7 linked regions of the Homo sapiens genome follow. The protein of the gene in region 2 purifies or fractionates together with the protein of the main gene of each other region. This does not show direct contact. Each region holds a gene or a part of one and is shown on either strand. Other genes may lie near its edges. The genes, in order: ZNF331, GMPS, MTAP, COLGALT1, USP46, PPA1 and OAS1.

Evidence for each region.
Region 1: the proteins of GMPS (region 2) and ZNF331 purify together in Homo sapiens (co-immunoprecipitation; one large-scale study listed by IntAct). This does not show direct contact.
Region 3: the proteins of GMPS (region 2) and MTAP fractionate together in Homo sapiens (co-fractionation; one large-scale study listed by BioGRID). This does not show direct contact.
Region 4: the proteins of GMPS (region 2) and COLGALT1 fractionate together in Homo sapiens (co-fractionation; one large-scale study listed by BioGRID). This does not show direct contact.
Region 5: the proteins of GMPS (region 2) and USP46 purify together in Homo sapiens (co-immunoprecipitation; one large-scale study listed by IntAct). This does not show direct contact.
Region 6: the proteins of GMPS (region 2) and PPA1 fractionate together in Homo sapiens (co-fractionation; one large-scale study listed by BioGRID). This does not show direct contact.
Region 7: the proteins of GMPS (region 2) and OAS1 purify together in Homo sapiens (co-immunoprecipitation; one large-scale study listed by IntAct). This does not show direct contact.

The regions. Positions count from the first base shown.
Region 1 is NC_000019.10:53,544,353-53,548,596, reverse strand, and holds part of ZNF331 (zinc finger protein 331), read right to left. Parts: intron 1-4,244. UniProt on the Homo sapiens protein: May be involved in transcriptional regulation. May play a role in spermatogenesis.
Region 2 is NC_000003.12:155,873,055-155,877,298, forward strand, and holds part of GMPS (GMP synthase [glutamine-hydrolyzing]), read left to right. Parts: intron 1-4,244. UniProt on the Homo sapiens protein: Catalyzes the conversion of xanthine monophosphate (XMP) to GMP in the presence of glutamine and ATP through an adenyl-XMP intermediate.
Region 3 is NC_000009.12:21,864,198-21,867,914, reverse strand, and holds the end of MTAP (S-methyl-5'-thioadenosine phosphorylase), read right to left. Parts: 3' UTR 834-3,717; downstream 1-833. UniProt on the Homo sapiens protein: Catalyzes the reversible phosphorylation of S-methyl-5'-thioadenosine (MTA) to adenine and 5-methylthioribose-1-phosphate. Involved in the breakdown of MTA, a major by-product of polyamine biosynthesis.
Region 4 is NC_000019.10:17,575,627-17,579,870, reverse strand, and holds part of COLGALT1 (procollagen galactosyltransferase 1 precursor), read right to left. Parts: intron 2,677-4,244; coding exon 2,600-2,676; intron 2,511-2,599; coding exon 2,404-2,510; intron 1,915-2,403; coding exon 1,782-1,914; intron 390-1,781; coding exon 262-389; intron 1-261. UniProt on the Homo sapiens protein: Beta-galactosyltransferase that transfers beta-galactose to hydroxylysine residues of type I collagen. By acting on collagen glycosylation, facilitates the formation of collagen triple helix. Also involved in the biosynthesis of collagen type IV.
Region 5 is NC_000004.12:52,589,886-52,593,471, forward strand, and holds the end of USP46 (ubiquitin carboxyl-terminal hydrolase 46), read right to left. Parts: 3' UTR 1,075-3,586; downstream 1-1,074. UniProt on the Homo sapiens protein: Deubiquitinating enzyme that plays a role in behavior, possibly by regulating GABA action. May act by mediating the deubiquitination of GAD1/GAD67.
Region 6 is NC_000010.11:70,216,003-70,220,246, forward strand, and holds part of PPA1 (inorganic pyrophosphatase), read right to left. Parts: intron 2,816-4,244; coding exon 2,762-2,815; intron 1,930-2,761; coding exon 1,810-1,929; intron 1-1,809.
Region 7 is NC_000012.12:112,909,765-112,914,008, forward strand, and holds part of OAS1 (2'-5'-oligoadenylate synthase 1), read left to right. Parts: intron 1-1,286; coding exon 1,287-1,471; coding exon of another isoform or gene 1,472-1,494; intron 1,495-4,244.

The sequences.
Region 1 (4,244 bases), on a different chromosome or scaffold from region 2:
TCAAACCATATATCTGATAAGGGGTTAATATCCAAAATAGGGCTTGGCATGGTGGCTCACACCTGTAATCCCAGAACTTTGGAAGGCCGAGATGGGAGGACTGCTTGAGCCCAGGAGTTTAAGATCAGCCTGGGCAACATGGTGAGACCCCATATCTACAAAAAATTGAAAAATTAGTCGGGCATTGGCCGGGCACCGTGGCTCACACCTGTAATCCCAGCACTTTGGGAGGCTGAGGCAAGTGGATCATGAGGTCAGGAGATCGAGACCATCCTGGCTAACAGGGTGAAACCCTGTCTCTACTAAAAATACAAAAAAAAAATTAGCCGGGCGTGGTGGCACGCGCCTGTAATCCCAGCTACTCGGAGGCTGAGGCAGGAGAATCGCTTGAACCCGGGAGGCGGAGGTTGCAGTGAGCCGAGATCACGCCACTGCACTCCAGCCTGGGTGACAGAGGGAGACTCCATCTCAAAAAAAAAGAAAAGAAAAGAAAAGAAAAATTAGCCGGGCATGATGGCATGTGCCTGTAGTCCCAGCTACTTGGGAGGCTGAGGTAGGAGGATTGCTTGGGTCCAGGAGGTGGAGGATGCAGTGAACTGTCATTGCACCACTGCACTCCAGCCTGGATGACAGAGCAAGACCCTGTCTAGAAAACAAACAAAAAAAAACAAACAAAAATGACAAAACATAGAACTCAAACAACTTAACAGCAAAAAACCAAACAACCCTGATAATAAATGGGCAGAAAACTTGAACAGCCATTTCTTGATAGAACACATACAAATTGCTATAGGTCTGTGAAAAATTGCTCAGGATCACTACTATTATTCAGGGCAACAAAAAGTTAAACCACAATGAGATATCACCTCATACATGTAAGAATGGCTTTTATTAAAAAACAAACAAAAAAAATAACATGTTGGCAAGGCTGTGAGGAAAAGAGGACCCTTATACACTGTTGGTTAGAATGTAAATTAGCCATGATGGAAAACACCGTGGAGATGCCTGAAAAAACTAAAACTATCAGATGACGCAGCAATCCCACTCTGGGTATATATCCAAAGAAAATGAAATTAGTATGTCATGGCGATACCTGTGCTCCCGTGTTCACTGCAGTAGCATTATTCACAGTAGCCAAGATAAGGAATCAACCTACATACTCATCAGGAATTAATAAAGAAAGTGTGGTAGAGATAACACAATGCAATGCCATCCAGCCTTTATAAAGAAGGAAATCCTGTTATTGTGACAACATGGGTAAATCTGGAGGACATTGTACTAAGTGAAATAAGCTAGACAGACAAATCCTGCATGATGTCATTACATGTGGAGTGTAAAAAAAATCCAACTCACAGAAGAAGAGAGGTGGTCGTCAGGGCCTGGGAGGGTGATGGGGAATGAGAAGATTAAAGGAGATAAAGTGGGAATAATTTCTGGAGATTTATTGTCTAGCATGGTGACTAAATATAATGAATAATATTGAATATGCCAAGAGACTAGATTTAAATGTTCTCATTGCAAATATGATTATCAGTGAGTTGAGGGAGGGATATGTTAATCAGCTTGATTTAATCTGCAGTATAAACACAGATCAAAGCCTCTGTAGACCATAAACATACACAAATTGCCATTGAAGACAGCTGCCAACCTCTGCCCTAGATCCAGAACTCATACTCAACATTAAACCATATGGTTTCTCACAGTTCACACAAACGGGGAACTGAAGAAAAACAGAAGCTGTCCGCCCAAAGAAGTCCAAGTGAATAGAACAAATTTCGATTTACTGCATATTGAAAAACATCTCTGCCTTTGATGACACAGAAATTAGCTCAAACTCCGCTCTTAAAGGCCTCACAAAACTGACAACTTTGCCAGGTACAGACTAAACAAACTAACTTTCTCTTTTCTTGTGCTCTAAAAATCAGTCCCATGGAAAAGACCAAAGATATCTGTGTTTGACTCCACCTAAAAACGAATCCCCTCCTTACCCAAGCACACTGTAAAATAAAGCGCGCTAACATGAACCTCTAGGAGGGAGTTGTTTTTTTTTTTTTTAGGGGGGATTTTTCTATACCATCAGATCTTAGAAAACCAGAGCACACAGCAGGATGTCAACAATTTGACAAATGGGTTTGTGGATACTCAAAGGAGAGGGCTGGTCAACCAGGGGGTACAGAGAGGAATATACCTGCCTGGCCCTTGCCACATCCCCTGGGGAGGAATTACTGGGATAAATTGCTATTAGGGAGGATATTTGGGGCCATAAAGAGTAAAGAGTCCTAAGTCATATAAACACAAATCATTTAATGAACAAAAAAGGTAACTCATGTGGAGAGCCGACTTTCAGATATATAATATTAGGTCAGTGCAAAAGCAATTGACATTAGACATAATGGCAAAAACCGCAATTACTTTTGCACCAACCTAAATAATAATTTTTTTTTTTTTTTTTTTTTCCCCCTCAGGATGCTTTTTCTGAAGGATGCCAGCCTAGGGGAAAGGAAGAATGAGAACCTAGGGTCTTTCTGGAGCACAGGCTGCATTAGCAAATACCCTCCAGGGCACGCCTGTCCCCAGGCCACAGCCGAAACCAATCCGAATGGAGAGGACACTGGCATTTGTGAGTTTCAGAGTTCTTGGGGACTAACGTGTATTTACTGGATTCTAGAACACGTGATGCTCCCGACACTCACCTACCAAGTTAGTCACCTCTCCCTCCACAAGGACTCCCACTCCTGAGGCTTCCCGTTACTGTGACACAGGAGCCGGTACGGAGAACACGTCCGGCTTGAACACTTATCTATGACAATGGCTGTGCCCTTTGTGTTGGTTCAGTTAATGACAGGGTCCTGGCTCTCATGTCCCACTGGGGGCCGCTGCTCTCAGGCAGGTACCACACTGTTGGAAGGTGAAGGCAGAGGAAGCCCAGAGACAATGGAAATACAAGTGGCAGACTGTGAGTCAGTGACTGATCTAGGACTGTGGCTGGGTGATCGGGAGTGTGGCCTACTGAGTGTCCATGAGTGGATGTGACTGGCGCTGTGTCACCCCAGCTGGGACCCCGTCTGGCCTCTTGAGTGGGGTGATGCCGGGCGAGCCACGGCTGTTCTCAGAAGGGTATCCTCTCCTAGGCCCTCTGGGGCGTCACCTGGAATTCTCTGCAGGCCACAGCACAGGCTGCCCGAGCTGCTGTTCGGTGCCCCTTGCTTGCTGGATTGTAAACAATGTGCAGGCAGCAGTTATGCCCCGTTAGTCACGCTCTCATTCCAAGTACTAACGTCACAGGGTGTGGCATAGTGCGGGCCCTTAACAAACATCTAATTTTGACTCAAAATTCCACATGTGGAATTTATGGGTCCAGGAGGAGGAAACAGTTAGAAAGACAAGAAAACAGAAGTACATAAATGTATGTGAAAGAGCGATCAAGAAAAATTTTTTTCTAGGTAAGTTATTTTTCTAAAAAACTGAGATAACTGTAGATTCACATGTAGTTGTAAATAATAATACAGAGAGATCCAGTGCACCCTTAACCTGACTTACACCAGTAGTGATACCTTATAAAACTACAGTACAGGCCGGGCATGGTGGCTCATGCCTGTAATCCCAGCACTTTTGGAGGCCAAGGCAGGCAGATCACAAATTCGACACCAGCCTGGCCAACATGGTGAAACCCCGTCTCTACTAAAAATACAAAAATTAGCTGGCTATGGTGGTGGGAGCCTGTAATCCCCGCTACTCAGGAGGCTGAGGCAGGAGAATTGCTTGAACCCAGAAGGTGGAGGTTGCAGTGAGCTGAGATTGTGCCACTGCACTCCAGCCTGGGTGACAGAGAAAGACTCCGTCTCAAAAAAAAGAAAAACAAAACTGCAGTACAGTATCACAGCCAGGATAGTGACACAGATTCCCTCCTTGATCTTATCTATGATTTCCAGAGAATACAGTTTCAACAACGAAAAAAATAGCAGTATCTCACAGTAGAGGATGGGTTAAATTATGGTCTGCTATATGATGGCATGGAATACTAACAATATTGATTCTTTTTTTTTTTTTTTGAGACGGAGTCTTGCTCTGTCGCCCAGGCTGGAGTGCAGTGGCGTGATCTCGGCTCACTGCAAGCTCTGTCTCCTGGGTTCACGCCATTCTCCTGCCTCAGCCTCCCGAGTAGCTGGGACTACAGGTGCCCACTACCTCGCCCGGCTAATTTTTTGTATTTTTAGTAGAGATGGGGTTTCACCGTGTTAGCC
Region 2 (4,244 bases):
GGGAGGAAAGGCTTACTTTGTACATTGATTGGGCCTTGGCTGTGTGTATCTTAGTTCATAAATTAAAAGTTGGGCAAGAGCTGGTTTTGATTCCTGTTTCTGGTACATTTCAGTTATCAGGATTTTCTAAAACGGCGTTTTTGCATGATAGAAACTGGAGAGGGGCCTAAAAGCTATGAAAGCATTTGGGTTATTTTAATTATTTTTTATACACAATATTTTATTTAATTTTTAATTTATATTATTTTTTTGAGACAGGATCTTGCTCTGTCACCCAAGCTGGAGTGCAGTGGTGTGATCACAGCTCACTGCTGCCTTGACTTCTTTAGCCTCCTGAGTAGCTGGAAGTACAGGCGTGGATCACCCCGCCCTGCTAATTTTTATTTTTTGTAGAGACAGTTCTCGCTGTGTTGCTCAGGCTGGTCTGGAACTCCTGGGCTCAAGCTATCCTCCCACTTTAGCGTCCCAAAGTGCTGGGATTACAGTAGTGAGCCACTGTGCCTGGCCAGTATTTTATTTATTTAAATTTTTTATTTCCGTATGTTATTGGGGAGCAGGTGTCGTTAGGTTACATGAGTAAGTTCTTTTTTTTTTTTTTGAGATGGAGTCTAGCTCTGTCGCCCAGGCTGGAGTGCAGTGGTGTGATCTCGGCTCACTGCAAGCTCTGCCTCCTAGGTTCACGCAGTTCTCCTGCCTCAGCCTCCCAAGTAGCTGGAACTACAGGCGCCCGCCACCATGCCTAGCTAATTTTTTTGTATTTTTAGTAGAGACAGGGTTTCACTGTGTTAGCCAGGATGGTCTTGATCTCCTGGCCTCGTGATCCACCTGCCTCAGCCTCCCAAAGTGCTGGGATTACAGGCGTGAGCCACCATGCCCAGCCATGAGCAAATTCTTTAGTGGTGATTTGTGAGATTTTGGTGCACCCATCACCCGAACGGTATACACAACACCCAGTATGTAGTCTTTTATCCCTCACCCGCTTCCTACCCTTTCCCCCTGAGTCTCCAAAGTCCATTGTGTCATTCTTATGCCTTTGCATCCTCACAGCATAGGTGATCAGCTTTTCTTTAAAAACTTTTTATTATGGCAGGGGTGTATTTGACATAGTAACTTGAGTTTTATTAAGGCAGCATTATCAGAGTAATGCTTTGGGTGACTTGTCAAGTTTCCTACTCTTTTCCCCTGTCTAAGGGTGAAACTCTTGGTTGGAGTAAAGGTGGTACCTGTCCTATCATTGAGAGGTTATGACTAGGTTATATCATACTTGGATGAAAGATGTTTTATAAACTCTCCCTTAGTGATTGCATGTGATACAGAATCTTTAATGGCATTTAATAATGTTAATTTTAAGTTTGGAATTTCCAAATTTAAGATTTTGAATGGAATGGGAATATAACTTGGGATTTTTATCTGGGATGTACTGAGAATTAAACAACTATATCACCTTTTGTCACAACTTAGTAAATTTTTTTCTTAGATAAAAGTTAGATTTTTCAGATTTTATTCCGTTAGGATATTCATTTAGAGTGGAAGAACTGCTGCAGACAAAAGGAATGGTTTTTAGTGTAGTGTGTTCTTAGACCTGAAAGGTTTTGAAATTCCTCCAGGAATCTCGGATGACATTGCCTTTAGCGTGGGCCAACTTGTCACTTAAGGAAAATAATTCAGTCTTTTAAGAATTTTTACAAAAAGTATAGACTTGTCTTATACTTGTACAAATGTATTTGATACTTTTTTAAGGTTAATGAATTACATTCCAAAGGATGTTGTTTGAAGTAATGAATAATTATTTGCTACCCAGAATAATCAAATTTTGCTGTTGTAGTACATTCTTAAACTTTGTTTTCTTTTTTTTTTTTTTTTTTTTTTTTGAGACAGAGTCTGGCTCTGTTGCCCAGGCTGGAGTACAGTGGCATGATCTCGGCTCACTGCAATGTCCGCCTCCCTGGTTCAAGTGATCCTTGTGTGATCCTTGTACCTCAGCCACCCGAGTAGCTGGGATTACAGGCGTGTGCCACCACATACGGCTAATTTTATATTTTTAGTAGAGACAGGGTTTCACCATGTTGGCCAGGCTGGTCTCTAACCCTTGACCTCAAGTGAGTCGCTCACCTTGGCCTCCCAAAGTCGTGGGATTACAAGTGTGAACCACTGTGCCTGGCCTTAAATCCTGTGTTTTGTTTTGTTTGTTTTTGAGACAAAGTCTTGCTCTGTCACCCAGGCTGGAGTGCAGTGGCATGATCTCCCCTCATTGCAACCTCCGCCTCCCAGGCTCAAGGAATTCTCCTGACTCAGCCTCCTGAGTAGCTGGGACTAAATGCGCATGCCGCCGTGCCTGGCTAACTTTTGTATTTTTAGTAGAGATGGGGTTTCACCATGTTGCCCAGGCTGGTCTCGAACTCCTGGGCTCAGGTGATCCACCGGCCTCACCTCCCAAAGTGCTAAGATGATAGGCGTGAGCCATTGTGTCCGGCCCTGGCCTTAAACTTTGTTTTTATGCCTCTTTCTAACCTAAACCATATTTAGATGCTGAAAATGAATGAAAGTGTCAGGGTTAATGCATAATTCTGAAGCACTTTGTGAATCAACAGAAAAATAATTGTTTCATAGAATTTTAAATCTTTGTGTGGCATATACAATTCTGGGTTGCGTAGAATATTATTTTTTTCATGCTTATTGTGGAATAGAGATGCTTCTGTATTTGCTCAAGAAGGACGGTGGTTAAAAAAATTGCTTTATTATAGTAAAAACATAACAGTCAATTGGTTTTCTTGTTGGTGGACCCTTGCTATGGCTTCAGGTTCATGGTTTTGAGGACCTAGGAGATTATATAGTTAAGTCTATACACTCATTAAGATTGTTATAATGTGAAAGGGAATAAGATCTCTAAACTGGGGCACATGAGCATAAAAAAAGAAGGTGTGGAAAATTTAAATTTATAATAATTGCTGCAAAATAAAATATTACATACAAAAAAATTGTAGATTTACACAATACAATTAGTAAGTAAATGGCAAAACTCCTGTGGCAAGAGTGTTCAGATTACTGTCTTCTGTACATTATACACAGGGACATATAACATCTCTTTCCTGCATGTGTTACACAAATACCCCATATTTCCCAGTGACCCAGCTTATAATGGCCTCGAGGCTCCTGTGCATCTTGCAAGGTGAGGAGTGGCTGTAACACAACTGGGAGGTACACTGAGTAGCCGGCAGGAATAGCAACTTCAGATATTTCTCCTGTCATCACCCAAGACTAGATAGAGTTAGCTATCCTTAATTGCCTGTGTCCAAGAGTACTTGATTTTATTAGAAAAGAGTAAGGAAGGATGTGTTACCAGTATTTGGCATTCAGACTGAACGAGAAGTTAAAAATGAGAACTGTTTACTATGCTTGCAACCCACACAACACTAGACAAAGCCATAGCCGAAGGTGGTATTAGATATAAGGTGAAAGTTTAACAAACCCGTCCTATTTTACTTTAAGGCAGTTATTCATAGTATGTTGTTAAAAAGAAAAATCTGAGACAAATGTTAAGCTGGGTGGGATATCGGACTAACAGATGTACATCAGGAGAGTCCTGGGCAGACTGGACCATATGGTCACTCCATTTATAGAGCACATATTGTTCTGAGTTTGGCTCTGATTTCTCCCCAGTGATGTGTATTTAAAATTTGGCTAAAATTTAAGTCTAGTGTGTATACATTAGCATTATTTTTCTGAGTTAATTATATAATAAGAGTATTATTCTAAAATTCTTGAAAACTGAGTGTCATTAATTACCTGTGTTTTAAAAGTGGTGTGAGCCAGCAGCACTGAACCTGACCCTAAGGTAAAATAATCTTCTCTAGTCTGCCATAACACTTGCAAGGGATGTTTCCCAAACCTTTAAAGCTGCCTGGACATGTGAAGTTTTCTGTTTAGTTACTCCCGTTTGTCACTGGAAAAACAGTAACCTTTTAATCTCAAAACTCACAGCGGTCCATGTAAATTTAATTTCTACCTCATTTGCAATTTGGAGAACGAGTCTCAGTAATTCTTCTGAATCCTATTATGAATGTAAATTTAGGACTCCAGATTTCTAAAATTCTGCTTTGGACAAATTTTGGATCAACGATCTCTGATTAATTTGGGAAATTTTAGATGAACAAAAGTACCTGTAGATATATCATTATTTTGATGTTATTGGTAGCAGTAGAACTTCATTATACTTATTATTTGGCAAGCAAATTAAAAGAAAT
Region 3 (3,717 bases), on a different chromosome or scaffold from region 2:
AATTGATGTACCTTAGTTTATTTAAAACATCCTATGACACTGAGAATTTTAGCCATTCCCAAGCTTTTGCCTATAACAGTTCCAAGATGCATTTATAGCTGCAAAATATTTTCAGGTATCAAATGTAACCTGCTGTTCCAGCCTTTTTCAATCTTTTTGGTTAACAAATTCTGTATATAAACAACTCAGGCTGTCGTCATCTTTTTTTTTTTGAAGTTTATTTTTATCTTAAAAATATATGTTTGTAAATGTGTCAAAATTAACCAAGCCCTGACACCTGACAAGACTTACAAGAAAGGAAAATCACAGACCAATCTGTCTCATGAGCATAGATGCAAAAATCAAACAAAATATTTGCAAACCGAATCCAGCATTATATAAAGGGGATAACATATCATGACTAAGTATGGTTTATATCAGGAATGCAAGATCAGTTTAACATTAAAGAATCTACATTAACAAAATAAAAGAGAAAAGTCAAGATTCTCTCAACAGATGCAGGAAAAAGTACTTGGTGAAATTCAACATGCATTCATGACACTCTTGGCAAAATAGGAATAAAAGGGATCTTCAATCTGATAAAAACATGAAACGGAAAAAACCTATAGCTAACATATTTTAATAGTGAAAAACTAGACGCTATCCTCTGCTGTTGAGAATAAGACAAGAGTAACAACTCACACACCGCTTCTATTCAACATTAGGTTGAAGGTCCTAGCCATTACGACAAAGCAAGAAGAAACAAAAGGTAAACTGTTGTTATTCATATATGACATGATTGTGTACACAAGGTATCCCTAAGGCACTTGCAATAAAATAAAAATAAGAACTACTACTGAACTAAGTGAATTTAATAAGATTACAGAATATAAAGTCAATATACAAAAATAAAACATATTTCTGTATACCAGCAATAAACTTAAAAATGAAATTAAAGTACTATTTACAGTAACATTTCCACAAAATATTTAGGAATACATTTAACAAAAGATATATACAAGACTTCTTCACTAAAACTACAAAATATTGCTGAGATAAATTTTAAAAGGCCCAAATAAATGCAGAAACATACCATGTCCATCGATTGAAAGGTTCAATATTGTCAATTCTTCCCAAATCGACCTAAAAATTCAGTGCCATTCCAGCAGATTTTTTCTTAAAGAAAAATGGAGAAGCTTAATATAAACTTTATAAAGAAAGGACCTATAGCCAAAACAATCTTGGAAAAGATTGCAAAGCTTAACAATACTTAATTTCAAGACACCATAAAGCCACAATAATCAAGACAGTGGGGTACTGGCATAAGAAGAGACACATAGATAAATGACATAAATAGATCATCCAGATTCACAGATAAACAGTAAATTTTGACAAGGGCACACAGGTAATTAAATGAGTAGGCAAGGTAATTAAGTGAGTAGTCAAAATTAAATGATTTTGACAAGGGCACACAGGTAATTAAATGAGTAGGCAAAGATTTCTTGGAACACACAAAAAGCACCAACCATAAAAAAAATTGATAAACTAGGCTTCGTCAAAATGAAAAACTTGTTCTTTGAAAGACATAATTAAGAAAATGAAAAGGCAAGCTAAAGACTAAGAATAGTCACAACACACATATCTGAAAAAGAGTGTATCCAGAATATATAAACAATTCTTACTATTCAATAATAAAACAAAACAATCTAATTTTTTAATAAACAAAAATATTTGTACAGATAGTTCACGAAATATGTGAATGGCCAATAAGCACATGAAAAGAAGTTCAACATCTTTAATCAGAAAAATGCAAATCAAAACCACGAGATATCAAAATATACCCAATAGAATGGCTAAAATTAAAAACGCTGACAATACCAAGCTTTGTCAAGAATTCTTACAAATTACTGGTGGGAGTATAGGCATTTGCACAAGTGAAAATATGTTCACAAAAAGACTTGTAATTTCATGCTTATAGCAGCTTTATTCATAAAATTCCTCAAATGGAAAAAATTCAAACATTCATCAACAGGTGAATAGATAATCAAATTGTAAGATAGGCATATGACAGAATACTACTAGGCAATAAAAAAGGCACAAGCTACAGATGCATGCAACATGAGTGAATCTTCAAAACAAAGAAATAATGCATGCCGAGATTGTCTTTCTGAAGAAATTCCCCTCATTCTTTGGGATCCCGAGGTTCTCAAAGGCATAGCTGGCAACAGGCCCTGAAACAGCTTCTTCTGGACTACCCTACTAGTCTTGGTAGATTTCCTCGATCTTTGGCATTCCTTCTTTTCTTCCATGGTCTTCATTTACTGCTGTCCTTCTTGCCTATCTTGAATTATTCTATACTATTATGAGGAGAACACAGGTTCTTCCATCCTGGAACTTCAGTTCTTTGCCTTGCTGGGCCAATATATACATTGAGCCAGATTGTGTGCACACTGGTAGTTCCAAGGTGCAACAATCTTCAAAACATTTGAGGAGTGTATTAGTCCATTCTCATGCTGCTGTAAAGGACTGCCCATGACTGGGTAATTTATAAAGGAAAGAGGTTTAATTAACTCACAGTTCCACATAGCTGGGAAGGCCTCAGGAAACTTACAATCGTGGCAGAAGGGGAAACAAACACGTCCTTCTTCACATGATGGCAGGAAGAAGTGTTGAGCAAAAGGGGGAAAAGCCCCTTATAAAACAAACAGGACTTGTGAGAACTCAGTATCATGAGAACAGCAGTGTGGGGGTAACCACCCCCATGATTTAATTACCTCCCACTGGGTCCCTCCCACAACATGTGGGGATTATGGGAACTACAATTCAACATGAGATTTGGGTGGGGACACCGCCAAACCTTATCAAGGAGGGACTCTGCAAATGTGGCAAGAACTCCTCATTTCGTGACTTCCTAACCCATCAGATACTCCTTGAAACCTTATCAAATTGTTTCACTGGATAAGTGCTGGCTAAATGCTTGTTGAGAAAATTAAAAACATGTTCAGGCCACTGTCACAAGAATGAATAATTATTTGGAAAATAGGTGTTGGTGGGGCCACAACCATGCCCTGAGGTAGCAGCCAGAGAAGAGGCTCCAGGAGCATCCTGTGGATGCCAGAGCAGGCTCACGTGGCACCTGCAGGGCAGCTGGCTCAGGGCAGGTTGGAGGTCACCTTAGTCACTCCCTCTTCAAGGAAGTTCACTGTCCTCCACTCCTGAGGGTGCCACCGTACCAGAGTTTCCTTCCTTGAAACAAGCCATGGTAGCTACCTCCAGCCCTGCACAGCAACTCGTGCTAGCGAAGGGGGCAGTGAACAGGGGCCAGGTCACAAGGACCATGACCCTCGGGGACCACAGGGCCAGGATGTCATTCTCAAAACCATGAAAATCCATGCCAAATATAACAGCAGATTATAAGGCCAACAAAGACTTCTATGTACATGCAAATCTATTAATCACTAAGGGCTAAGTCACTAAACTACAGCTTTCCCATGATGCTCACCATCCATCCTTTGCGGAAACCAAAATGCTCACAACTGACCATGGTGTTCACTTAGTATACTAGCTTAAATTAAAAAAAAAAAATTAGTACAGCATCACAAGTGAGAAGTGTTCCAGGAAGTGTTCTTCAACAATATCCTCAAGCATAAGGTATGAGGAAAATTATATTGGCTTTGCATAAGGAGTGAATGATTGAGAACAAAGAAAAGAGTATACTGCATTCATTTAGTTAGTCTG
Region 4 (4,244 bases), on a different chromosome or scaffold from region 2:
TGACCACACCCAGACATACAGGCTCTAGGCTCAGCTGCAGCGCTGTGGCCACGCCCGTAGGATTCAGCTCCACTCCGCCTCCCAGCCCCACCTCTAAGCCCTGGCCATGTACCTAGGCTCCAGTTCCACCCCACCTTCAAGCCCCGCCTCTAAGCCATGACCCATCCCCAGGTCCCAGCTCCACCCTGCCCCCACCCCCACCTCTAAGTCCTGGCCTTGCCCCAGGCCCCAGCTTCACCCCATCCTCAGACCCCCACTCACATGAGGTCCCAGTCCAGGCCCTCCCGCTCCACATCCCGCATGAGGTTCATCAGACGTCTCTTGAAGAAGATCTCAAAACGCAGGTCATCCTCAAACACAAGCGATTTCTGCAGCCCCCGGTCCACCACCTGAGGGAGGAAGCCCCGCCACATCACAGGGAGGCCAAGGCCAGGCCTGACCCTAAAGCACAGAGCTTTGCTTTGAGAAGGTTTGAAAGACCCGTAGAGAAGCCAGTGCATCTCCCTGCCTCTCCTAGCTCCAGGGACATCTGGACATCCAAACCTCTGCCCTCTGCCGTCCATAATGGATCTCAGAAGAGAAAGGCCTCCCAGCCCCTCAAATGCCCACGCCTCATGCACCTCCCGCCTTGCAGCCGCACACCCCCATTTGGCTTCACATTCGATAACAAGTTTTTCTTTTCTTTTTCTTTTTTTTTTTTTTTGAGACGGAGTCTCGCCCTGTCGCCCAGGCTGGAGTGCAGTGGAACGATCTCAACTGCAACCTCCGCCTCCCAGGTTCAAGTAATTCTGCCTCAGCCTCCTGAGCAGCTGGGATTACAGGCATGTGCCACTACGCCCGGATTTTATTTTTCTTTTTTTGAGATGGAGTGTCACTCTTGTCGCCCAGGCTGGAGTGCAATGGCATGATTTCAGCCCACTGCAACCTCTGCCTCCTGGGTTCAAGTGATTCTCCTGCCTCAGTCTCCCAAGTAGAGGGATTACAGGTGCCCACCACCACACCCAGATAATTTTTGTATTTTTAGTAGAGTCTAGGTTTCACCATGTTGGCCAGGCTGGTCTTGAACTCCTGACCTAAGGTGATCCGCCTGCCTCGGCCTCCCAAAGTGCTGAGATTACAGGCATGAGCCACCACGCCCAGCCATTTTTCTTTTTTCTGAGACACGGTTTTGCTCTGCTGTCCAGTCTGCAGTGCAGTGGCACGATCTTGGCTGACTGCAGCCTTAACTCCTGGGCTCAAGCCACTCTCCCACTTTAGCCTCCCAAATAGTTGGGACCACAGGTGTGCGCCACCATGCCCGGCCCTGATGGCCCAAGTTCGAAGCCTAGTCAGACACCCTCCTCCAATCACAGCCTCTCCCTCTGAGGGTGGATGAGGATGCCTGGGCTGGTGAGTGCCCCCAGCAGCACTGGGCAGGTGCTGGTTTAAAGTGGCTCTGTGGCCATGACTTCTAGTACTAAACATCAAGCACAGAGACCAGGCTGGGAGTAATGAGGATTTGTTTACAGGTCCCAGGCCCCAGACACCACCTGCTGCTCAAAAGGGCTCACCCCTACCCCCAGGCTCAGTTTCCACATTTGCGCAATGGAAGGATGGCAGGTACACCTGGGGGTGATACAGCTGGTGTGGCGCATCATTCACTAAAGAGAGGCCATGGGTCCCATGGCTGAGGCTGGATGCCTAGCCGGGGCTTTGGGGAACTCTTTCAACCCCTTTCCCGTCCAAATCTCCGATGAGATCTAGAGTCATAACTCTGGCCCCGCCCATCACTCAGGACACACCTCCTTCCAGATGTTGTAGTGGCTCAGGAAGCAGCCCAGCTCACCCTTGGTGAGGGGCCGGCCGTGGTAGGGGTCCCGGTAGCCAGGCAGCATCTGGATCCCCAGCGCCTCCACCTGGCTGGTGTTCATGGCTCTGGAGAGGAGGAGGAGAGGGTCACGAAGAAGGTTCACCCTGCCTGCCATTCTGCCATCCCCGGCCATTCCACCACCCCCTGCGGCGTTGAGCAGCTGGTCCACCTCTTGTAGCACTGGCACCCCTTCCGGGCACATGGGGCCTCACTCACCTGCACATGGTATACACTCGCGGGCAAACCTGCTCTCCTCCTCTCCTGGGGTCTGACTGACTTACCCCTCCACAGTCCCCACCAGTCTACACTGGCAGCATGCAAACCTACCCATTCCCCTGGGTCAGGACTCACTTGCCTTCCATGGTCTACAACTGTGAGGATCTGCCCCTTCCCCAGGGTCCCATTCACTTCCCCTTCAGGACGCCCACTGACGAGGTCTACATCTGTTTGGACACCACGCCCGCCCCCATCTGAATCACTTGCCGTCTACCAGCGAGGTCTACACCCACATCCACGTGCGGACCCGCCCCCCCACCCCCAGGCCTCGGACTCACTTGCCGTCCACGGCCTCCACCAGCCGGCACTCGATCTCCTGTGCCTGCAGCGCCCGCAGCATGCGCTCCCGCCGGTCCTGCCGCCGCCTCAGGTTGATCATGAAGACCTGCAGCCCGGAGAGTCCCCAGCCAGATCAGCCCCTGCAAACAAGGGCCCTCCAGCCCCCGCCCCGCCTCCAGGGAAGGCCCAGCTCACCTCGTCGAAGCCCATCTTGTCCGGTGTCTTGGTGGGAGCCGAGATGAAGCGGGAGGGCTCTGCGGGCGGGTGCTTCACTGTGGGGCACAGACGTTGAGGAGTCGCTGGGGTAAGGAGCCTCCAGCCTCTCTCCAACACGCTTTCCCCACCCACTCCATGGCTCCCAGTCAGACTGGCTCGGCCCACAAAGTCGACCTGGCTCCGCCCACATCAGCGCTGCCCTCTAGGAGCCCCTCCCATGTCATTTGAACCCTGCACAGCAGCCCAAAGCCCTGGCCACACCCCAGGCCCCAGCTTCACCCCGCCCCCAGTCCTGCCTCTCAGCCCTGGCCACACCCCAGGCCCCAGCTTCACCGCGCCCAAGGCCCCGCTACTCAACCCTGGACTCGCCCCAGGTCCCAGCCTCACCCTGCCCTTAGCCCCGCCTCTAAGCCCTGGCCACACCCCAGGCTACAGCTTCAACCTGCCCCCCAGCCGCACCACTCAGCCCTGGCCACGCCCCAGGCCCCAGCTTCACCCCACAGCCTCCCCCAGCCTTGCCTCTAAGCCCTGGCCATGCCCCAGGCTCCAACTTCACCCTGCACCCCCCCAGCCCCACCTTTAAACCCTGGCCATGCAACAGCTTCGCTCCGACCCCCAGCCCCGCTTCTAAGTCCTGGTCACACCCCAGGCCCCAGCTTCACCCTGCTCCCAGCCCCGACTCTCAGCCGTGGCCACGCCCTGGGCTCCAGCTTCACTCCGCCCCCAACCCTGCCTCTAAGCCCTGGCCACGCCCCATGCTCCAGCTTCACTCTACCCCCCAGCCCCACCTCTATGCCCCTGCCAACCCAAAGAACCCCCATTCCTACCTCAGGGCCTTTGCACATGCTGGATCCCTGCTTGAAATACCCTTCCTTTCCCTGCTCTGTAACGTTACTTCTCAGCTATGATGCCCTGGGCATGGGGGTCACCCTCCCCACTCCCACCTCCCTAGGCTGAGCCAGGCACCTCCTCTGGGCCCCAGCAGCACCTGGACTTGCACCACCAAAGCTCGCATCCTTGCTGCCCTAACCCCCTGGCCCTGTGCCTGTCTGTTGTGAGCCCTTTGGGAAGGACACCAGGTATGTCTGCTCACACTGGGCCCCTAGTGCCCAACACAGGGGCTTGGCACACAGCAGGCACTCAGTAATTGCTTGTAGAATGAACCAAGAAATGATGGCATGCTGTATATTCTTGATTGGCCTGGGCCTCAGCTTTCCTCATCTATAAAATGGGCCAATAAGCCACTGAGAGGTTTCACAAAGAGATGTCATGAGATCATGCACTATGTCATGGGGTGAACTGTGTCTCCCCAGTGCCAACCACCAGTACCCCAGGATATGATCCTATTTGGACACAGGGTTGTGTACAGAGGTCATCGAGTTAAAATGAGGTCATTAGGGTGGGCCCTAATCCACATGGCTTGTGTGCTTTTAAAAGGGGAAATCTGTAGCTCCTTGGGAGGCTGAGGCAGAAGGATTGCCCAGGAGTTCAAGGCTGCAGCGAGCTATGATGGTGACACTGCACTCCAGCCTGGGTGACAGAGACTCCATCTCCAAAAAAAGCAAAAAAGAAGGCCGGGCACAGTGGTTCATGCCTGTAATCCCAGCACTTTGGGAGGCTGAGG
Region 5 (3,586 bases), on a different chromosome or scaffold from region 2:
GCGAGGTCAGGGAAACAGCAGAAAGAGCAGAGAATGTGTAGGTTTCCTGTCAGCGACAGACAAAGTGGGGTCTACCTAAGTCCCAGCTAACCTTGCAAAGCACACACACACAGGTGTTGGGCAGGCGTTGCGGCAAGACCCAAGGCTAGAAGCTAAGCAGTATTAGGAGTCTTAACTTTATTCCCCTCCTCTTACCCCCGAAACTCACAGCCCCTTATTCTTCTACATTATGTACACATTTCCATCTGAGGGGAGGTTGTATGGTGAATTCATTCTTCATAAACCTTCACAGACTCCTCAGATGACATAATCAGTTAAAAGTCAAAGTCAATCAATAGCCATACAGGAAGAGGGTTTTCTCTCCCTTCTACAGCCTTCACCCTTCTGCTGAAGTGTCATACATCTGTGAAAGGAAAAGAACATCTTGGGACCCCAAACTCACTATACCAAAGGGAAAAGTTAAGCTTGGAAGCTGGGTCACAGAACACTGTCTTTCCTTTTGTTCCTAAACAGATAGCTACAAGAGGCCATGTCTCCCCAGGTGGCCTCCCCAAGTATGGGACAAGAGGAGAGTACAAACCATCCCCACTGCCCAGCCTGAGATAAATGCATATTTGACTTCTTCCCCTATTCTGTTTATCTTTTGTAAAGTGCAGTTTTACTGAGCAGGGGACATACATAATCGACTGTTCCTCTACCCATTCCTTGCCACGTGCAACACATGGATTCAGTGAGTGTGAATCAAAGCCTCCTAAGAATGTGACCATGCTCTCCCTCTTTTTTTTGTTCTTTCCTCCTTTCTCCTCCTGCCTACTTTTCCCCTTTAAATACTGAAGCCCTCAAAATCCTCTTTGGAGAAAGTAGGGGCCATAGATCATACTGTAGCTTGTGTCTCTTTTCCCTAGTGTGTCTTCAACCTTGGCAAAATAACCTGTACATTGATTGAGACTTGGCTCAGTCTTTTGGTTTACATGTCAAAGCTGCCACATATGACATACCTAGCCTAGCAATTTATACTTAATATTTGTTCTCTGGGCTTTGGGGTAGCAGAGATAGAACAATATACTGAAGCCATTTCTCTTCAAAGAGTTTTCAAACAATTTATTTCACAGGAGAGGTGGAGAAGGCCAATCTTCTTCACACAAGTTTTATAACCCATTAAAACAGTATCTTTCTAATCCCCTCAGAGTGGAAAACAGGTAATTCTCAACCTGGAGACAAGCTCTGAAGTACAGAGCTATCACCTGCTGCAGGAGGTGTGAAGGCTCATTCTTAAAGTTTTCTCACGTTTATTTTCCATTTTCTTAGCACAGAATGTTCTTTCCAGCAAGGTCCATTAAGAGAGACCGAAATATGAATATGGCTGCATTGGATTCCAGAGGAGGACTTGATCAAATACACAGAAATAGTGGCTTCAATGATCAAGTTATTTTGCTTCTGGTCAAGTCGGATACAAGTCTGAGTTTTCTTTTCAAAGCTCCCTTATGCTGAGAGGAAGTAAGAACAGAATCAGACTGCAGTCTACAACACAAGTGCCTGAACTCCTTTTCCAAGAAGAGCTTCTGTAGAATTCCACACTGCCTTAAGCACAACCTCACTCTTTCTCTCACTCTTGGGAAAGAAAAAAGTGAAAGATGCATCCGTGTAATTGACAACCTGAGTACGATCCCAAGGTTGTTAATATATAGTTTATTATAATCATGTGGGAAGTAAGCACACAATTAGAAGTCTTTTCTATACAATCTAATGTCATTTCTGACTCTGGTATCTCATAACCAAAATGAAGCTATTTTTCCTTTGTAAGCTCCTGATGTCTTTTGTTCAAATCCCTTTAAAACATAAAGGAACCTTAAAAAGCAAACAAAGGCTGATGCACCAATAAATCGCTTATGCCCTATCTTATTTTGGTAAGTCTAGATAGGCTCTAATTATTTGGTCATAATGTAAACAGATTGTTTAGAAATAACAGATATTTGATTCATAAAGCTCACTGTTGAGGCTTTCATGATACTGGCTCTTTTAACATGAGAAGAGGCAAAACGTGAAGTTCATTGTTGCAACATAATCGATTTATACTTTGTTTTTCAAAATGTGTTGTCCCTGAGCTAGAAGGCAGGCTGGGAAGAGTGTGGGGCTCCCAGGAAAAAAGATGGTGTGGCTTCATCCAACAGTGCCATCTGCATGTTGAGGCTGGGGCTGAATACCAAACTGTGCTGAATTGCAAGGAGTTTCCCCCACACGTGTTATTTCCACAACTTAAATTTTAAATTTCTTTCTCACCCAGACTTGTCTTCTGAGACAAAAAACGAGTCCATAAGAGGGACCCAATCTGTGTCACCTTTTTATCCCCCAGCTCCTATCACAATGCCTAGAATGCAATAGGTGCCAAATAAATGCCTAATTAAAAATCTCTCCACTTGGGGTATCTTCAGAAAAAGTCTACATGGGCTATCTTTAGTACTAACCCCACAACCAAAATTTTCCTTCAGTAAAAGAAAAATGACTGATACGGTTTGGCTCTGTGTCTCCACCCAAATCCCATGTTGAATTGTAATCCCCAGTGTTGGAGGTGGGGCCTGGTGGGAGGTGATTGCATCATAGGTGGTTAAGCACCATCCCCCTAGTACTGCCTCATGACTGAGTTCTCACGAGATCTGGTTGTTTAAAAGTGTGTAACCCCAGCCGAGCAAGGTGGCTCTTGCCTGTAATCCCAGCACTTTGGGAGGCTGAGGCACCTGAAGTCAGGAGTTCCAGACCAGCTTGGCCAATATGAGAAAACTTTGTATCTACTGAAAATACAAAAATTACCCGGGTATAGTGGCACATGCCTGTAGTCCCAGCTACTTGGGAGGCTGAGGCAGAAGAATCGCTTGAACTCGGGAGGCAGAGGTTGCAGTGAGCTGAGATCTCATCACTGCACTCCAGCCTGGGTGACAGTGAGACTCCATCTTAAAAAAAAAAAAGGAAAGAAAAGTGTGTAACCCCTCCCCCTTTGCTCTCTTCCTCTTGCTCCTGCCATGTAAGATGGGCTTGCTTTCCCTTTGCCTTCTGCTGATTGTAAGTTTCCTGAGGCCTCCCCCAGAACAGAAGCCTGTACAGCCCATAAAACCATGAGCCAATTAAACCTCTTTTCTTCAGAAATGACCCACGCTCAGGTATGTCTTTATAGCACTGCCAGAATGGACAAATACAACGACTTAGTAAGTATTTTTATCTTCATGTAAATATAAGGGAATGGAAATGGAAGGCTTCATTTTTTTAGTAAAGGTATTTTAAGTATCAATAAAAAGAGAGGAAAGGAAATTTGAAGAAATGGGAAAATACATTCTCTAGAATTTGTGTCACCTTGGTAGTGACAGGCCTGTCCTATAAATCCCAGGACAAAGTGAGGCCTAGGAAAGAAAAACACAGTCCCAAGAAGGTCTTCTCTGCCTTTGGCCTTCGTGGCAGACAGAAGTGACCTTCCCAACAGTCTCTGTTCCAGCTCAGTCAGGTTCAACTGCACTGCCCCGAGAAGATGGACAGCAGCTGGGAGACTCAACACTTACTGGCACATTCCCTGCTCTTGGTCTATGAGGTTTTATTC
Region 6 (4,244 bases), on a different chromosome or scaffold from region 2:
TAGAACACGTTACTCAGATTTGTTTGTCTACTCAGCTGGAGTAAAGGCAAAAAGATAAATGAGAAGGGGGATAAAGGAAGACCACATCTAACAAATCCAACATTAAGAAAGCAAAATCCAACCCACAGAAGAGTAAGTATTTCAGCAATGTTCTCCTACAAGGATGATATATCAAGGCTAAATACTATTAATAAATCAATTGAGGCCGGGCGTGGTGGCTCATGCCTGTAATCCCAGCACTTTGCAAGGCCGAGGCAGGCAGATCACAAGGTCAGGAGTTTGAGACCAGCCTGGCCAATACAGTGAAACCCTGTCTCTAATAAAAATACAAAAAATTAGCTGGGCGTGGTGGTAGGCGCCTGTAATCCCAGCTACACAAGAGGCTGAGACAAGAGAATCACTCGAACCTGAGAGGCAGAAGATGCAGTGAGCCAAGACTGCGCCACCGCACTCCAGCCCGGGCGACAGTGCAAGACTCCGTCTCAAAAAAAAAAAAAAAATTTCAATTAAAGTATAAGGTGAAACACTGTAATTAAGACAAACAAATGACTTTGTGCTTACCTAACAAGCTAGATGGGTCAGACCTATGTTCTACTATCTTATGGGTTGTTTCATAGTACGTTCCATTTAACAGACTTCATTGTTAATAAAAACAAACCATTTATCAACAGCAAAAAAATTAAACTGAATATTTAGTTAGTGTCTCAGCATTAAATTTTAAGTGCCACAGCACTGGCCTAGCCAAAATAGAATTAAATAGATGTCATTTACTCATTATAGATAAGATCCTAGTGATTCTTCAAATATCAAATAAGAACCTACTACATACTGACATTGTGCTGGGAATAAATTGGTAAACAACCCTTCTCAAAAGGTTGACTATTAGGCCAGACATGGTGGCTCACACCTGTAATCCCAGCACTTTGGGAGGCCAAGGCAGGCGGATCACAGGTCAGGAGATCGAGACCATCTGGCTAACACAGTGAACCCCGTCTCCACTAAACTGCAAAAAATTAGGTGGTGGACACCTGTAGTCCCAGCTACTTGGGAGGCTGAGGCAGGAGAATGGCGTGAACCTGGGAGACGGAGCTTTTGCAGTGAGCCGAGATCACGCCACTGCACTCCAGCCCGGGTGACAAAGCAAGACTCCATCTCAAAAAAAAATTTTTTTAATTAAAAAAAAAAAAGGTTGACTACTTAAGAAAACATGATCCTCTCATTACTTTACCACAAAGAGCTTGACCTGAAGAAGAGGGAATCAAAACTCTAAACATAAAGTCAGCAGCTATGACAGCTTGTTGTGTGCAGGTATTAAGTGCTTTATTTTTTGAAATAACCATACCACCTACATACTGTGAATAGCTCAGGGAGGCGATATGGACGTCTCAAGGAGAAAGAAAGGGAGGCAAGTTAGGTAAGCTAGGAATTGGCCATCTTGGGATTTGAACTCTGGTCTGTCTGGTGCCAAAAATCAGTGCTTTTGACTACTACCATACACTCTTTCTTGACTGAACAGACTTGCAACTCAGTCTGTAGAGAATTTATATAGCTTATAACCAGTCCAAAAAAGAAGAAATATTTCAGGAAAGAATAAACGTTCAAATCTGAATTTAAACATTGTAAATATTTAGTTTATCTTGAAAATAAGTTATTTAAGGAAGCATTCTGAGTTAATTATCCCTTCTTATGTTTTCAAAATCTACCATAGAAAAAACTCTCCACAGGTATTCAAACCTTTTTTACTAATAGCAGTAAATTAATATTTAGTAAGCTAAAAAGTACATTGTCAGCAGTTGCATGAAGACATACCTGAGGGATGGCACCATAGTTCCAGATATATCCTTTATACGGGAACAAATTCGCAACATAGCGAAGTTTTCCTTTTTTCACATCTTGTTTAATAGGGTTTAAAGGGTCCTTTGTAGCAATCTGAAATAAGAAAATTTCAAATCTTTGCATATTTGGATGTGAAATACTATTCAAATAAGGATCTGAGGAAATGAATTATGGTACCTATGTTCCCTAATTCCACTTTAATGATATATTTTATCCCTAACACTTTTATAATTGAACTAAGGTGTTTCCATAATCGGCCATTAAGTGAAAGGTTATGTGAGGTATAAAGGAACTATCAAGAAGGGAAAAAGAACATTTACTAATTCTAGAAAGCAAAGACTAAAATTAGCTGGAATAAATTCTAATGTTTGAGTAATAAAAATACCACAATTTTTATTAAAAGGGCAAAATAAATATTATCCAATTTTAGTTTTCCTTCACAGAATTTAAAATTATTCAAATACTTGGGTATTTATTACACAAAAAAAGTGATTACTGTTAAGAGTTTGTGATATAAAATATGTTATAAATATCCATAACAAAAAGGCAATGATGGTAGGTATCATCAGAAAGAAACTAACACCATGCAACTGAAATTCCAATGAGAGTATCTGTGGCTGGGGTGACTAAGGAGGGGTCAGTGAAGGGCTTACAGAGAGTAAGAGGAGAAAAAGTAATTCTAGGCTTTGGGAACATTGGAAGCAAAGATGTTGGGAAGAAAAGTTTGGGGCATATTTGTAAACAGTTGAGTTTAGCTGGAGCCCAAAGGGAAGACTAGTAGGCAATGGGAGATACAACTAGAAAATAGACTGGGACCAGACAGAGAAAAACCTTGACGTTCAGATGGTTCATCCTTGATCAAGTCAGTGTGACTAGATCAAAACCAATATCCTAAGTCTGACTCAAATGTAAGGTGAAATATTACCTCCATTTTTGCATTAGACCAGCGTGGTACTTCAACTACCATGTGAAACACATCCTGAAAAAACAAAGAGAAAGTGAGATGGTCACAGGAGCCAATTTGTTCTCTGAGGGAGCATGCACTATTTCTTCCAAAGTCAAACTGTTCATTGTATCAGATCTTTGAAGTCAATTGGATTTTCAACAAAATGCATCAAAAAAAGAGAATGATGGATGAAGAAATAATGCAATTATAGGAAAATATTCATTATAGAATCAAGGTGGTCAGTATATGATTGCTTACGGTATAGTTCTTCTTAATTTTTATTTACTTCTAAATTTTTTATAGAGGCAAGGTCTTACTGTGTTGCCCAGGCTGGTCTCAAACTCCTGGCCTCAAGTGATCCTCCTGCCTCCACCTCCCAAAGTGCTAGGATTACAGGTGTGAGCCATCTTGCCCAGCCAACTTACTATATAAATCTTTTAACTTTTCTGTATGCTTTAAGTGTTTCAGAATAAAAGCTGACAGTGGAAAGAATGTTCCTAGGAAGGAAACAGTTCTTAAATAAACGTAACAGAACCTGTATCTCTGAAGAAGACCATCTTCAAAACACTCTCCAAAGGCCAGTGTTATTTCCTTCAGAGACACTGCAATTACTCAAAATGTTTTTGGAGCTTCTATTTCAGAGACAGTTTATAAGACAAACCCCAAGTCAGACTAATTACTTGATCATACTTTAGTTTATAAGACGAACCCCACATCAGCCTAATTACTTGGTCATACTTTAGTTTTAGCATCAAACAAAACTCATCAGCTTCATTATCCACATTATTCTCCCAATTCGGCTGTTTTTAGAAATAAAGCCCCCCTGAAAAGGACTTTGACCTTGAAGATAAGAGAATATGCTTTAAAAATATTTTAATCAATGATAGTTCTACTGTAATTGGCTTATAGCCTTAAACTGACTACTATAAAATAGATGATATATTCAGGGAGTAAATTCCCAGATGTGCAGTTTAAAAACACAATGAAAAAACAAACCATACTTTGCCAACCCATTTTGCACACTGGAGTTAAATATGCCATAGGTTATTTAATTAAACTTGAGCTTTAATTATTCAGAATACTATTTTTTTTCACGGAATAGAACTTTAACTGCAGTTTTTCAGTTTTTAGCCTCTACAAAGGGCACAGATGAAGCTAAATCTGCAATTACTGTTTTCTGTCACCCAGGCTGGAGTGCAGTGGCACAATCTTGGCTCACTGCAACCTCTGCCTCCTGAGTTCAAGTGATTCTACTGTCTCAGCCTCCTGAGTAGCTGGGATAACACAGGGGCGTGCCACTACACCTGGCTAATTTTTGTATTTTTAGTAGAGATGGAGTTTCGCCATGTTGGCCAGGCTGGTCTCAAACTCCTGACCTCAGGTGATCCACCCGCCTCAGCCTCCCAAAGTGCTGGGATTACAGGTGTAAGCCACCGCACCTGGCCTGCAATTATGCTTATAA
Region 7 (4,244 bases), on a different chromosome or scaffold from region 2:
GTTTAGATTTTAATTTTTTGAGGGAAATGCGATGACATCTGTCACACACCGCACAAACGGCTACTATTAAACTGAACTTACTGATTAGTGGCTACTAATTAATAGTTGGTCATTAAGCAGTAATTAGTGATTAATTATCAAGTAATTAGGACTTAATTAAAGGAACTGTCACAGTTTCCTTTAGTCCTAGGGCAGCCATGAAAAAAAAAATGCTGACTCTCCAAAGACACCAGGGTATGAGAAAGTTTTGGATTCTCTCCTTTGTGCCATCTCCTGTGTTGGGGGCTGAAGTACAATGGTTGTAAAAGACAAGAGGGAGAAGGCTGGTCACAGTGGCTCACGCCTGTAATCTCAGCACTTTGGGAGGCCAAAGTGGGGGGATCACTTGAAGTCAGGAATTCAAGACCAGCCTGGCCAACATGGTGAAATCTCACATCTACTAAAAATACAAAAATTAGCTGGGCGTGGTGGTGTGTGCCTGTAATCACAGCTACTCGGGAGGCTGAGGCAGGAGAATTGCTTGAACCCAGGAGATGGAGGTTGCAATGAGCCAAGATCATGCCATTGCACTCCAGCCTGGGCAACAGAGTGAGACTCCATCTCGAAAAAAAGAAAAAAGAAAAGAATATAAGGAGTGATTAAAAAAGAAAAGAAAAGAAAACTAAGTAGGGTGAAACAATAGATAGCCATGGGGGTTAGGGAGCTTTTTTAGACAGGGTCGTGAGGGAGGGTCCCTGAGCCTGAGTGGCGAGAAGGAGTGAGCCTTGGGGAGATCTGGAGGTTCTGGGAAGAGGAATGGCAAGTGCAGAGGCCCTGAAGCAGCAATGACCATGGCACATTTGAGGAAGAGAGAAAAAGTCAGAGAAGTAGAAAGTGGGCAAAGGAAGCAAGACAGGAGGTGAGGTGGGAGAGGTTCCAGAGACCAGATCACACCAGACATCATTGGCCACCATAAGATCTTTGGGTTTTAAAATTCCAGATGTTATGGGATGCAGGAAGCAGCATGATCAGCAGCATTCTCTAGGTGCCAGGTTGAGAACAGGCTGTGGGGGAACCTGTAAAGAGGTTGCTGCCATAGTTCCGGCGAGTGACGGTGGTGGCTTGGATGGGGTGATGGCAGTGGAGAGGGCAGGAGGGAGGATCAGGAATGGACCTCAAGACTTCCCAGCCCTGGGTCTGCTGCACTTTTCAATCAAACCCCATGGCCAGGGAGATTGTCCCCTCAGAGTGACTGAAGGAAATTCAGAGAAGAGCTGACACCTAAGTTGTAGATTTTGCCCGAACAGGTCAGTTGACTGGCGGCTATAAACCTAACCCCCAAATCTATGTCAAGCTCATCGAGGAGTGCACCGACCTGCAGAAAGAGGGCGAGTTCTCCACCTGCTTCACAGAACTACAGAGAGACTTCCTGAAGCAGCGCCCCACCAAGCTCAAGAGCCTCATCCGCCTAGTCAAGCACTGGTACCAAAATGTATGGCCCTCCCACCAGGCCTGGTGGGTCCTGTCTCGACTGGGAGCAGAGGAGGGGTGGGGGGAGGAGAGAAAGAAGGGAGTGAAGGGAAGAGGAGGGGGAGTGGTGGAGGGAAATAGAGGGATGGAAAAAGGAGAGAAAGGAAAAAGAGGTGGAGAGAGGAGCCTGCAACAGAAGGGAGAATGAAAGGGAAGGAAGAGAGAAAGGAAGGGATTTTGGTGTTCTGTTCACTGCTGTATCCCCAGAACTTAAAACAGAGCCTGGTGCATAATAGGTGTAAATAACTGTTGAATAAATGAATCAATGCTACATACACACACGCACGCACACACACACAGAGAGAGAGTCAACCACACTCTTCAGAAGGTGGATAAGTTAAAACAAGAGTTTCAAACAAATATATGTTCAGATGCCCTTTCCTCCCACTTACTGGCTGGCTGGCCTTAAGTAAGCAACTTAACCTTTCTGTTCTTTCTGCTTTCTTATCTGCAACGAGTAGCATGCCATAGCTAGAGTAACACGGCATATAGTTGGTCCTGATAAATGTAGCATATTTTAGCCACCATAGGAGTACACATAATAAAAGCTAACATGTAGTATGTGCTTAGCTTATCTATGTTTTGTGGATGTGATACAATTTTCTGTTCACTTTTAAATGCCCTGCATCTTAGTCAATTTTAACAGTGATTCTGTAAGTTAGATAAGGTTAGGCATTATTATTAAATCCATTTTACACCAAGAGAAACTTGGGTCAAAAAGAGAAACTCCTGGGTCACATGGCTCATTCGGCCAATAAGTAGCAGAAGTAAAATTTGAATTTGGCTGGGCGCGGTAGCTCACACCAGTAATCCCAGCACTTTGGGAAGCCAAGGCAGGTAGATTGCTTGAGCCCAGGAGTTCAAGACTAGCCTGAGCAACATGGCAAAACCTCGTCTCTACAAAATAAACTAAAAATTTAGCCAGGTGTGATGGTGAGCACCTGTAGCCCCAGCTACTGGGTAGGCTGAGGTGGGAGGATCGCTTGAGCCTGGGAGGAGGAGGTTGCAGTAAGTCAGGATTGCACTACTGCCCTCCAGCCTGTGAGACAGAGCAAGATCTTCTCTCAAACAAACAAACAAACAAACAAACAAAAACTCGAATTTGGGTCTATTGACTTAAGAGTTTGCCTGATAATAATAGGCATTCAATGTATATTTCTTGAATGAACGAATGAATGAAAATAATCAGGAATAAACTTTCCAATTTAAAAGTAACACCTCTAGGTAAAAAAAAGACAATCATTTAGTTGCCAGACTTCTAAGTGTTTGCTGTTCTATGAATTGTAATCATGGAGCCTGAGCATTGTAGAATTTACAAAAGCAGTTCCTGACAAAAGCAGCACTGCCCCCAGGGACATATTGAAAATTAATGAGGGTGTTTTTGGTAACCATGGTGATGGGAGGACATGGGTGCTACTTATATTTAGTGGAAAGAAGACAAGAATGCTAGTTATTGTACAATGATCAAGAGAGTCCTGCACAGCCAAGAATTGTCTTTTTCTTTCTTTCTTGATGCTGTTCTCCTTTAAAACAAGACAAGATTAACAATAATTTAACTCCACTAACCACCATCATCACCACCTCCAACTTATATGCTACATTTCTTGTATATTTCAAGTCTGTTTATATTTTCAAGTGCCTCGAAGTATTATTGTTTTATAGCCAAATGTTTAGTTAATCTGCTCACAGATTTACCACTTTCTTCACTATTCATTCTGTCTTACACCTCTAACATTCCATCTGGGGTAATTTTCCTAAATGATCATGCATCCTTTGGGATTTCTTTTGATGATGGTCTATTGGTAGTAAACTCTCTCAGTTATTGTTTGTCTGAAAATGTCATGCTTTTGCCTTCATTGTTGAAGGGTGCTTTTGCTGGGTGGTCATTTCAGTATATTGAATATATCATTCCATCTTCCAGTGTCATCATTAAAAAGTCAGTTGCCAGTCTAACTGCAGCTCTTTTATAAGTAACCTGTCTTATTCTTCTGGCTGCATGTAAAAGTTTTCTCTTTGTCTTTGATTTTGTTTAGCTTCAATCTGCTGTGTCTTAATGATGGGTTCCTATTGTTTGTCCTGATTGGGATTCCGTTAAGATTCCTGAATCTGTGGGTAGATATCTTTAATCAGTTTTGAAACTTCTCAGCCATTCTTCTAAAATATTGATTCTCCTTCATTCTCTCCTCACCTTCTAGAATTCCAATTAAATGTATGTTAGACCCTGCTCTATCTTTCATATCTCTATACTCTCTTCTGTGTTTTTCATCCTTTTGTCTATTTTTCCATGCTTTATTCTGAATAGTTCCTTCTAATCTACCTTCCAATTAACTAATTTTCTCTTTAGCTATATCTAATTTGCTGTAATTAATTACAGTTGCCATTTTTATCCTAAAATTTCTATTTCATATTTTTGTATCTGCCATGGTACTTCTTATGGCTTTTAATTCCCTGCTAACTATTTAAAGTTCTTATTTTATCCTGTGAATATGATATTCCTAGTTATTTTATTTTTAATTTTTATTATTTGTTAATCTTATGTTTTATTTACACTTCTTTTCTGTGACATGAGCACACACAGATTCATGTGTATACATATATGGCTCTGATACCTCTCCTTTCCTGTCCTCATTCAAACCACTGATCACAGAGAGAGGACTATTTTTTTTTATTTTTAATTTTTCTATTTCAATAGGTTTTTGGGGGAACAGGTGGTGTTTGGTTACATGAATAAGTTC